Linked DNA regions of Homo sapiens. The protein of the gene in region 1 interacts with the protein of each later gene in a pairwise test. Each region holds a gene or a part of one and is shown on either strand. Other genes may lie near its edges.

Region 1 (5,297 bases):
AGGCCTCAAACTTCGCCATCACAGAAAGATGGCACCACCTCCTCAGGCAGGAGGCCCCTAAGGCCGGGGTCAGAGCAAAAACACCCCTTCCTTCTGGGTTTCTTTTGTTAAGAACAGAAGGAGGGGGATTCTAGGGGAAGGCCGTGTAGCCCCTGCCCAGATCTGTTTGCGGATACCTCTGTGACCTCTGCTAAAGGGTGCAGCAGGGCAGGTGGCGGGTCACAGTTCTGAGAAGGTAACATACAAAGAGATCTTCCCTTAAAGATGTAGGAAGATAAGGAGGGGGGGAGTTGCTGGGGAAAGCCCCTTCTCCCATAGCCCCTGTGGGCCCTCATAGAAATGCAGGTTGGATTGTGGTGCAGCCAGGCAGCCTGTCCCCTCGAGGACAGGACCCTGGGGAGGGCCCCCGGGGCAGGCAGGGTGTCTGCACATACGCACACACTCTCTCATACACAACACATGCCTGTATGTGTGCACAGGCCTAGCTATGGAGTAGGAAACGAACTCAGACGCCATTCTCATTTGGACAAGCTTAAAACACGATGTGGCTCGTTTTTATTTTATCTCAGAAAAAAACATTCCCTTTAGAAGGAAAGGCAGTTAGACAAGGCCTCTCACTGGGTAGCTCTGCGCTACTCAGCACATGCCAGTGGCCTGCCAGCCCCAACCTCTCCCCTGGGACCTGGGCCCATGCTCTGGCACTGCTCTGTTACAACTCCCTGTCCTTGATCCCAGCTTTGTCACTCCAAGAGATGGCCCTGGGACTGAGAAGTGGATGGCAGCTGTGACAGCAGGAGAGGACTGCCTGAGGCTCCCCGGGCAGAGGCTCTGGTGCCAGGTTAGCAGCAGGACCGACGGCAGACCCAGCAGCCAGAGAGTGAAAGGTAATAAAATAAAAAGGGTTTCCTCACACTTACATTTTTCCTGGAAAAAAGTCAAATGTCACCTCTGGGCCCAGCAGCTCCTGAACCCTAGGAGAGTCTAGGGAGAGTGGTGTGTGGGTGGCAGGAGGCTGTTGGAGCCACTCCCCAGTCTCAGGGCCAGGCCAGTCTGCTGTGCCCAAGCTGCTCTGTGGAGACAAGGTGGTGCTTCCAGATGCTTCTGCAGTGGAGGGCTGGGCCCTGCCCAGCAAAGATGCTGCTGGTGCTGTGGCCCCCACCTGGTGCAAGGCCTCACAGCATGAAACATCTGCTTCCTCAGAACCCAAGCCCTTCTTGCTGGGCCTCATGCTGCTCCAGCCTGGGGCTCCCTTCTCTCAGTCCAAAGTAGGAACCGGCTGCCCTCAGGGTCTCCTGGCACTCTCTCTCTTCTCCCAACGTGACTGGTCAAGCCAACCAGAAAGATAAAGATCTCCTTCCCTTAGGAAGGGGCAAACTCCATGAATCATCAGGACACTCCTGCTCCATCCTGGGCCAGGGGGTCATCTAGGCCAGGGGGCTCTGGGCACACTCCCTTGAGCTCATGGCTAAGGAGCTCCACGTCTGGGAGGCCCGTGTTCCCCTGGGACTCTTGGGCACTCCCTCCACTCACCAGCCCCAGGGCATAGCCATTGGGCCTCCGCTCAGGGTGGGGAGCACTGCCGTTGGCCCACACTCCTGGCGGGTGGCCGTTGAGACGGAGGCTGACCTGCTCTCCGTCACTGCCATGAGCTGCCAAGACCCGGGCACTGGTGCCAGCTGCCTTGAAAGGTTCTTGCTGCCTCAGGACGTGGCTGCGAATGATCTTGCGGAAGGTCTGGCGGAACTCGCGGATACGGTAGGCGTAGATGAAGGGATTCACAACCGAATTGGTGTGGGAGAGGACGATGGCCAGGTACATGAGCCAGAGAGGGGCGTGGCTGCAGTCGGGGCAGAAGAAAGTGAAGCAGTTGATGATGTGTAGGGGCAGCCAGCAGAGGGCAAAGAGCCCCACAATGATGGCCAGTGACTTGGCAGCATGGACCTCCTTCTGCAGTGTGGACCGTGCCCGCTCCCCCGGCAGAGGCTGGCTCTCCATCTGCTTCAGCTGTCGTCGCGCCGCCAGGAAGATCCGCAAATAGACACCCAGCATGAGCAGCAGGGGCACCAGCACACAGGCAAAGAAGTTGAAGTACACCATGTAGTTCATGGGGACCACATCCTCAAAGAGACAGGCCACTTGGCCCTCCCCGCAGCCCTGGGAGTGGTTCTTGCCCTCCTTTGGCTGACCGCAGTTGTTCCAACCTAGCATGGGAGTCAGGCCGATGGCAAACGACAGCACCCAGCAGATGGCAATGATGCCCTTAGCCCTCGTGCCGGTCACCAAGCCATTGTACCTGGGGAGAAGAGACCAGCATCAGAGATCTGAGAAGCCAGGGTTAAGCAGGGCCAAGAGTTCAGAACCCCAGAGCAGCACCCGTTTCCACATTTCCTGACTGTAAGGTCTTGGACCAGTCATTTCCTGCCACCTCGCCCCAGCATCCTCTTCCGTTAAGTGGAAGTAATATGCCTTGCCTTTTTCACAGGCTTCTGGGAGGTAACAGGAGAGCAGGCATCCAAGAAATGGAAACCCATGTACAAATGCCCAGATGGTCATTGAGTAGTTTTCGGAGTAGTCCTGGGACTTAGTTTGGTTGGAGGAAATTAACGCATGATTTTTTGAGGGGGAAAACATGATTTTTCTCTAAAGGGAAACGTGTCGTAGCCTTAACCAAGATCAATTACCTCCATGTTGGTCGCAGCCTTAACCAAGATCAGTCACCTCCATGTTGGTTGATCTTGGTTAAGGCTACAACAGGCTTGAAGGGGTCTGGAGGGTGGCTTTACTGGCTAGGGGCAGCACCAGCCAGATCAGACCTATAGAGGATCTAGGCCTCTTGTACTCCATACCCTGTCTTCTCTTCCCCATTTGCCATTTGACTTGGGGACTCCAGAAGCCCTTGAGGAGAGGCAGCATGGAGGGTAAAAGAGGGGAGGAGGTCCCAGGCCAAAGGAGATGCCATTTCTCCCCTCCAAACCCACCCACAGCCCTCTGGAGAGAAATGAGAGAATTACTTGTTAACATTTACATGGCCATCTTAACATTTGCAAGGAAATACTGAGGTCCAGGGGGACAGTAATCTGCCCGAAATCACTCAGTCTTCCTGAGTGAGAGCCAGACAGAAATCCAAGCCTACCGACTCCCAGTCTCATACTCGGGAAATGGCTGGATCTGCCAGCCAGTAAGCAGACCTCAGCCCTGTAGGAAAGGTGGCCTAGATTTCATGAAAGAATGGACAATAAAAAAAAAAAGTCTCCCTAATTTAGGAAGGCAACCTTGATGATCACTGAGGGATGACTTCTGTTTAACAGTTTTGATTCTGGCAAGACCAGACTACACTCCCCTCTACCTGGCAGAAACCCTACCCATCCTTCAAGTCCAGGATAGAGATCTCAAAGAAGTTTCCTACCGAAGTGCAGCAGATCCCCACCACATCTGGGCCCCTCGGGGGCAGGGCTTTCCTACATCCATCTCTGCATTGCCAGCTCCGAGACAGGGACACTCAGAAGGTGCAAGGAGGCCGGGCGCAGTGGCTCACACCTGTAATCCCAGCACTTTGGGAGGCCGAGGCAGGCGGATCACGAGGTCAGGAGATGGAGAAACCTTGTCTCTACTAAAAATAAAAAAAACTAGCCGGCCGTGGTGGCGGGGGCCTGTAATCCCAGCTACTTGGGAGACAGGCAGGAGAATGGTGTGAACCCAGGAGGCAGAGCTTGCAGTGAGCCAAGATCGCGCCACTGCACTCCAGCCTGGGAGACAGAGCAAGACTCAGTCTCCAAAAAAAAAAAAAAAAAAAAAAAAAAAAAGGTGCAAGGGGAAGGATGTGCTCTACTTAACTGCGGAGCTGGGAACATCCACAGAAACCATCTCATTCACGGGTAGCAAACAGGCGCCTATAGGTAGCACACACAGGAGGCAGCTGGTGGGGCGTTTACCTGGTCTTCAGCGCCATGCAAAACGTACGCCTGCTATTACCAGATCTCAGGTGGGGCTGGGGAGATGATTTTCTGGGTAAAATCTCCCAAGATTTAAGTTTTGTCAACTAATTCAAATAAAAGAGAAAAAGAGAAACCCTGGTGGCTTCCGATCTCTTATGTGGTCCAATCCTCTTGTTTTACAGGTGGGTAAATTGAGGCCCAAGGAGAGGAATGGACTTGCTGTGGACATTCCAAGAGCCCAGAGGCAACTCAGGCCAAGGCGAGTCTGTCTGTTCTGAATCTCTTAGGTCAGTTCTGAATCCAAACAGTAACCGGACAAGCCCATTCTCAGGAGCTCCTCAGCTCCATTCCGTGGGGGCTTGGTTACCTGTAACAGGGCCTCAACAGGAGGGTCATAGACTTGCCCATTGCTTCCAAGCAACAGGGAGTTGGCATTGCCCTGCCTCCTGTGGGACTCGCAAACATAAAATCTCAGGCTCTCTCATTCTCACATCTACATTACATAGCACTGACTCTGTGCCGGACACTGTTCTTAGTGCTTTGCAAATAGTAATTTATATAGTCCTCATTGACTGGGAAGCTATATTAATTTTGACATTATTCCTGAGAAAAGCATATCCCTTCCTGGGTTCTGGCCCTGTTAACAGGAATGTTTTAAAACTTTGTCTCTCTGAGCCTCAGTTTCTTCATTTGTAAAATGGGACCAAGTCGTGGACCTGTCAGCACTCTGCCCTCTAAGGGCAGAATGGAGAATCAGTGGGTGGAAATTATAGGGAGGCAGATTGTAACTCAGGGTAGGTTAAGAGTTTTTCAGCTGAGCTGTTCACAGGAGAGATGGCCTGCCTCAGGCAATAGTGAGTTTCCTGTCATTTGAGGCAACAGAGCAGAGCCAAGCAGCCACAGGGGTGTTGCAGAGCTGCCTGGGCCCTGGGCCACCTGCTTTGCTGGTTTTCAAACTGTTCTCAGCAGCAAACCTTGTCGCCCACATTCCCAGGCAGTCACAGAGGTGAAGCTGCTGGGGAAGGGAAGGGGCTTATTAAATGTTTATTGAATCAGTGAATTGGTGGGGACACCAGAGCCAACCCGAAGGCTTCTGGGAACACAGTATGGAAATCCCTGGTCTGTCCAATTGTTGACTTGTACAGAAAAGGGAACCCACAAGGGGAGTCTTCCACCGTACTCTGCAAAGAAAGTCCCGTGTGGGGACAGAAACAAAACATACATTAATAGCACTTGCTTATATATGCAAAGAATATCTCTGGAAGGATTCTTAACATGGCCTTGCAGGCAGGGAACTGAGGGTGGGGGACAGGGGGTATGGAGGACAACTTTCTACTATACTATACTCTTTTGTTCCTTTTT
Region 2 (7,038 bases), on another chromosome or scaffold:
TATGTGGATTGTGAATATATTTTCTTATATTCTGTAAACTGTCTTTTCTTATTATTCTTCTTTTTTGATATAGGGTCTCGCTCTGTTGCCCAGGCAACCAGGCAACATCTTGGCTCACTGCAACCTCTGCCTCCCTGGCTCAGTGATTCTCCCACCTCAGCCTCCTGTGTCGTTGGGAATACAGGTGCACCCAGCCTGGGTGACAGAGCAAGACTCTGTCTCAAAAATAAATAAATAAATAAAAATAAATTTTAAATATATGTGTACACACACGTGTGTGTATAGATGTATATTCACAATAAATAGATGTATATACATCTATTCACCTGTATGTGTATATATATGTGTATATACTTGTGTATGTGTGTGTGTGTGTGTGTGTGTGTGTATGTACCTTTTTTTTTTTTTGGTAGAGACGGGGTTTCCTCATGTTGCCCAGGCTGATCTCAAACTTCTGGGCTGAAGTGATCAGCCTGCCTCAGCCTCCCAACGTGCTGGGATTACAGCGGTGAGCCACTGTGCCCAGCCTCTTTTCTTCTTCTTAATAGGGATTTTGCAGAGCAAAATTATTTTGGTTTTGTTTTTGTTTTTGAGACAGGGTCTCCCTTTGTCACTTAGGCTGGAGTGCCAGCTGGAATGCAGTGACACAATCATAGCTCACTGCAGTCGTGAACACCTGGGCTCAAGCGATCTTCCCACCTCAGCCTCCCAAAGTGCTAGGATTACAGGTGTAAGCCACTACACCTGGCCAACTTGTTTATATCTACAAAAAATCTTGCTGGTATTTTTATAGGAATTGGATTAAACTTGTATATTAATTTGGGGAAAATTGATATCTTTCTTATGTTGAGTCTTCCAATCCATCAATCCATGAGTACAGCATGTCTCTCCATATATTTAGATCTTCTTTGACTTCTTTAATCAGCATCGTGTAGTTTTTAGCATACAATTCAATGCTTTCTTTTTTCTTTTTTTTTTTTTCGGGAGACAGACTCTTACTCTGTTGCCCAGGCTGGAGTGCAGTGGAACAGTCTTGGCTCACTGCAACCTCTGCCTCCCGGGTTGAAGCAATTCTCCTGCCTCAGCCTCCAAAGTAGCTGGGATCAGGCATGCGCCACAACACCTGCCTAATTTTTGCATTTTTAGTAGAGACGGGGTTTCACCATGTTGGCCAGGCTGGTCTCAAACTCCCGACTTCAAGTGATCCGCCAGCCTCAACTTCCCAAAGTGCTGGGATTACAGGCATGAGCCACTGCACCTGGCCCTACGCATGTTTTTTAGATTTACACCTAAGTATTTCTTTCTCTCTTTCTTTTTCTTTTCTTTTCTTTTCTTTTCTTTTTTTTTTTTTTTTTTTTTTGAGATAGGGTCTTGCTCTCCTACCGAGGCTGGAAAGCAGTGGTGTGATCATGGCTCACTGCAGCCTTGCCCTCCTAGGGCTCAAGCAATCCTCCCACCTCAGCCTCCCCAGTAGCTGGGACTACAGGCATACACCATAATGCTCAGCTAATTTTTTTTTTTTTTTTTTTGAGACGTAGTCTCACTGTGTCACCCAGGCTGGAGTGCAGTGGCACAATCTCAGCTCACTGCAAGCTCCGCCTCCCAGGTTCACGCCATTCTCCTGCCTCAGCTTCCCGAGTAGCTGGGTCTACAGGCGCCTGCCACCACATCCAGCTAATTTTTTGTGTTTTTAGTAGAGACAGGGTTTCACCGTGTTAGCCAGGATGGTCTCGATCTCCTGACCTCATGATCCGCCCGCCTCAGCCTCCCAAAGTGTTGGGGTTACAGGAGTGAGCCACTGCACCCGGCCATGCTCAGCTAATTTTTTACTTTTTGTAGAGACAAGGTCTCACTATGTTGCCCGGGCTGGTCTTGAACTCCTGGGCTTAAGCAATCTTCCCACCTTGGCCTCCCAAAGTGCAGGAATTACAGGTGTGAGCCACCATGCCTGGCCTTTTTGAGCAATTATAAATGGTATTGTAGTTTTAATTTCTGTGTACACATGTTCCTTGCTAATATATAGAAATACAATAGATTTTTTATGTTTATCTTATATTCTGCAACCTTGATGAATTCATTTATTAATTCTAAGAAGTTTCTTACAGATTCTTTGAGATTTTCTATGTAATCATGTCATCCACAAATAGGAACAGTTTTATTTCTTTCTTTCTGATCAGTTTTCCTTTTATTTCATTTTTCTTGCCTTATTGCACTGGCAAGGGATTGCAGTATTATGTTGAATAAGAGTAGTAAGAGCAGACATCTTTGTCTTATTCCTGCACTTAGGGAGAAAGAATTCAGTTTTTCACCATTAAATATAATGTTAGTTGTAGTAGGGTGGGTCTTTTGCATTGTGTGTGTGTGTGTGTGTGTGTGTGTGTGCTTTTTATTTTATTTATTTATTTATTTATTTATTTATTTATTTATTTATTTTGAGACAGAGTCTTGCTCTGTCGCCTAGGCTGGAGTGTAGTGGCGCGATCTCAGCTCACTGCAACCTCTGCCTCCTGGGTTCAAGTGATTCTCCTGCCTCAGCCTCCCAAGTAGCTGGGACTATAGGTGTGTGCCACCACACCTGGATGACTTTTTGTATTTTTAGTAGAGGCAGGGTTTCACTGTGTTAGCCAGGATGGTCTTGATCTCATGACCTCATGATCTGTCCACCTCGGCCTCCCAAAGTGCTGGGATTACAGGCGTGAGCCACCACTCCTGACCTTTATTTACTTATTTATATTTTATTTATTTATTTATTTATTTTTTGTGATGGAGTCTCACTCTGTCACTCAGGCTGGAGTGCAATGGCACGGTCTCAGCTCACTGCGACCTCCGCCTCCTGGGTTCACGCAATTCTCCTGCCTCAGCCTCCTGGATAGCTGGGATTACAAGTGCCCGCCACCACGCCTGGCTAATTTTTTGGTATTTTTAGTAGAGACGGGGTTTCACCGTGTTAGCCAGGATGATCTTGATCTCCTGACCTCGTGATCCGCCTGCCACAGCCTCCCAAAGTGCTGGGATTACAGGCGTGAGCCACCACGCCCGGCCCCACAAGCAATTCTTATAATAACACCTTTCCATAGATATTATTAAGTGTTCACTGGTCAGGCGTGGTGGCTCACACCTGTAATCCCAGCACTTTGGGAGGCCAAGGTGGGTAGATCACTTGAGGGTAGAAGTTCCAGACCACCCTGGTCAACATGGTGAAACCCCATCTACTAAAAATGCAAAAATTAGCCAGACATGGTGGTGCACACCTGTAATCCCAGCTGCTCAGGAGGCTGAGGCAGGAGAATCACTTGAACCCAGGAGGTGGAGGTTGCAGTTAGCCGAGATCATGCCACTGCACTCCAGCCTAGGCGTCCAAATGAGACTCTGTCTCAAAAAAACAACAAAAAAGAATATTCACAATTTTATTTCTGTCAAGTAGACTTTCCAAAATAGCTATTATTAGGTCCAAGGGTTTTAGAGTTTTGTATTCGTTAAACATTGCCAGATTACTTTAAATAGTTAGTCTAGGCCGAGTGCGGTGGCTCACACCTGTACTCCCAGCACTTTGGGAGGCCAAGCCGGGCTGATCACGAAGTCGAGAGATTGAGACCATCCTGCTAGCATGGTGGAACCCTGTCTCTAATAAAAAAATAAAAAAGTTAGCTGGGCATGGTGGCACGTGTCTGTAGTCCCAGCTACTCGGGAGGCTGAGGCAGAATTGCTTGAACCTGGGAGGCAGAGGTTGCAGCGAGCTGAGATCGCGCCATTGCACTCCAGCCTAGGTGACAGACCGAGACTCCGTCTCAAAAAAAAGAAAAAAAGTCTAATAATTGGTAGTCTCATTATGATATAACTTAAGGAAGGAGTAGGAAAAAAGGTATATACAGTATGATATCATTTACGTAATTATGTATATAATATTCTCCACGCCGAACAACAGTGGAAGAAAATAGGCCACATGCAGTGGCTCATACCTATAATCCCAGCACTTTGGGAGGCCAAAGCGGGAAGATCACTTGAGCCTAGGAATTCAAGACCAGCCTGAGCAACATGGTGAAGTCTCATCTCTACAAAAAGTAAAAAATTAGGTGAACATGGTGGCGTGCACCTGTAGTCCCAGCTACTGGGAAGGCTGAAGTGGGAAGATCACTTGAGGCTGTGATGTGTTGTGGTCATGCCACTGTACTCCAGCCTGGGCAGCAGAGTGAGACCCTGTCTCAAAAAGAAAAAAAAAAAAAAAGATTGGAAGAAAATCAATCAAAATGTTAGCAGAGGATATCTCTGAGTGATAGAAGTATGCATGCATTTGATTTTCTTCCATATTCTTTTCTTCATTGACCAAATATTTTGTAATGAGCATATAATAGTTTTAAAACCAGGAGAAAAGGCCAAGTGCAGTAGCTCATGCCTGTAATCCCAGCACTTTGGGAGGCTAAGGTGGGAGAATCACTTGAGGTCAGGAGTTCAAGACCAGCCTGGCCAATATGATGAAAACCGGTCTCTACTAAAAATACGCAAATTAGCCGGGCATGGTGGCACACGCCTGTAGTCCCAGCTACTCAGGAGGCTGAGGCAGGAGAATTGCTTGAACCTGGGAGGCAGAGCTTGCAGTGAGCCAAGATCATGCCCACTGCACTCCAGCCTGGGCAACAGATCGAGAGTTTGCCTCAAAAAAAAAAAAGTAGAAAAAAATGATTCTGGGCCGGGCACAGTGACTCACGCCTGTAATCCCAGCACTTTGGGAGGCCAAGGAGGGTAAATCACGAGGTCAGGAGATCAAGACCAGCCTGGCTAACACCGTGAAACTCTGTCTCTACTAAAAGTACAAAAAATTAGCCAGGCATGGTGGCATACGCCTGTAGTCCCAGCTACTCGGGAGGCTGAGGCAGGAGAATCACTTGAACCCGGGAGGTGGAGGTTGCAATGAGCCAAGATCACGCCACCGCACTCCAGCCTGGGCGACAGAACGAGACTCTGTCTCAAAAAAATAAATAAATAAACTAATAATAATAATAATAAATNTGCAGCTTTTTTTTTTTTTTTGAGATGAAGTCTTGCTCTGTCACCCAGGCTGGAGTGCAGTGGTGCAATCTCAGCTCACTGCAGCCTTTGCCTCCCAGGTTCAAGCGAGTCTCCTGCCTCAGCCTCCTGAGTAGCTGGAAGTACAGGACTGCACCCCCACACCTGGCTAATTTTTGTATTTTTAGTAGAGACCGGGTTTCACCATGTTGGCCAGACTGGTCTTGAACTCCTGACCNCCGGTGATCTGCCCACCTCAAACTCCCAAAGTTCTGGATTACAGGTGTGAGCCACTACAGCCGGCCTTTTTTTTTTTAATTAAAAAAATTTTTTTTGGCTAGGCATAGTGACACACACCTGTAATTCCAGCACTCTGAGAGGCCAAGGTGAGTGGATCACTTGAGCTCATGAGTTCGAGACCAGCCTGGCCAACATGGTGAAACCCTGTCTCTATAAAAAATACAAAAATTAGCCTGGCATGGTGGTGCATGCCTGTAGTCCCAGCTACTTGGGAGGCTGAGGTGGGATGATGACTTGAGCCTGGGAGGTGGAGATTGCAGTGAGCCGAGATCACACCACTGCACTGGAGCCTGGGTGATAGAACTAGACCTTGTCTCCAAAAAAAATATATATATATTTTTTTTCATAGAGACAGAGTCTCACTATGTTGTTCAGGCTGGTCTTGAACTCCTGGACTCAAGCAATCCTCCGGCCTCAGCCTCCCACAGTGCTAGGATTATACATATGAGTCACTGTGCAAAGTATTATCTACATAGGTCTGTAGCAACAATACTCAAGAAATCACGGGTTTTAAGTGATAGTGATTGTTCTAAAACTCACTAAAATAAGTTCATGAATATTAAATATTAAAATATTGAAATTCACATACCACCTTTCCCTGGGCCACCAGCAGTTGGTGTAGAGAAACTCTGGATAAGAATGCCACTGAGTTTCTGTCAACCCAAGCCCTCTGGGATCCCAGAGTTTAACTAAGACCAGATCTCAGACACCAAAGGCTTTCACTCCATAGTGTGTTTTCCTCCCTGGATGGGGAGCCAGGCAACCCTACCTTTAGTTAAGAAGGAGCCCTGATTTCCCAGAATCTTTATCTGGTTGGAGTTTTTCCAGTGGAATTGTATGCTCTTCTTCTGGGAAGCTGTACAGGTCAGTTCCACTGTATCCCCTTTTTTGCCCAGCACCACTTTCTTTCCCTGAGTGGCTGCTGGGAGGAGCGCTAAGTGGAAAAGAAAGGAGTCAGGTCTCAATGTCGCCGCTGTCCCCCTCTACCCCATCCTCCACCTTTGCCTTTCCTCCCACGTCATCTGCATTGAGACCCCAGGTCTGAGAACTTACCCAGTTGCAGCACCAGAAGCAAGTGCCTAAAAGGGACTCCCCGGTTCATTGTGGCCTTGCCGAGGGAGGCAGGGGCCTGAGCCAGTAGGGACCTGAGCCCACAGAAATGGCAGGGCCTGAGGGAAATGCCAATCATTAGTCAGCAAACATTTACTGGACCTGGAGTATACAGGGGCGATACACAACCTCTCCCTCAGGACCCTTGCAGCCAGCCTAGTGAACTTGAGGCAGGAGAATAGCAGAGGGAATTGGAGGTTGGATTAAGGAAGGAATGAGTAGGAGCAGAAGCAAGAGAAAGAGGCAGGTGAGCAAAAACAGAAGATAAATAAGTGAATAAGGAGCCCCATGGCTGGCTAGATCCAAACCAAACCAGTTAGGAGCAGCTCCTAAGAGATGGGCATATACTAGGCTGGGTGCGGTGGCTCATGCCTGTAATCCCAGTGCTTTGGGAGGCCGAGGTGGGTGGATCACTTGCGGTCAGGAGTTCGAGATCAGCCTGGCCAACATGGTGAAACCCCATCTCTACTAAAAATACAAAAATTAGCCGGGCGTGGTGGCATGCACCTGTAGTCTCAGGTGCTTAGGAAGCTGAGGCAGGAGAATCACTTGAACCAGGGAGGAGGAGGTTGCAGTGAGCCAAGATTGCACCACTGCAAAAAAAGATGCACATGTACTACAGAG

Evidence for each region. The genes of interacting proteins can lie anywhere in the genome.
Region 2: the proteins of ADORA2A (region 1) and CD4 come close enough for resonance energy transfer, tested with the Homo sapiens proteins (one study listed by BioGRID).

The regions. Positions count from the first base shown.
Region 1 is NC_000022.11:24,437,579-24,442,875, reverse strand, and holds the end of ADORA2A (adenosine receptor A2a), read right to left. Parts: intron 4,600-5,297; exon of another isoform or gene 4,118-4,599; intron 3,583-4,117; exon of another isoform or gene 3,309-3,582; intron 2,294-3,308; coding exon 1,387-2,293; 3' UTR 519-1,386; downstream 1-518. UniProt on the Homo sapiens protein: Receptor for adenosine. The activity of this receptor is mediated by G proteins which activate adenylyl cyclase.
Region 2 is NC_000012.12:6,799,507-6,806,544, reverse strand, and holds part of CD4 (T-cell surface glycoprotein CD4 isoform 1 precursor), read right to left. Parts: intron 7,008-7,038; exon of another isoform or gene 6,922-7,007; intron 6,474-6,921; 5' UTR 6,407-6,473; coding exon 6,358-6,406; intron 6,239-6,357; coding exon 6,074-6,238; intron 1-6,073. UniProt on the Homo sapiens protein: Integral membrane glycoprotein that plays an essential role in the immune response and serves multiple functions in responses against both external and internal offenses.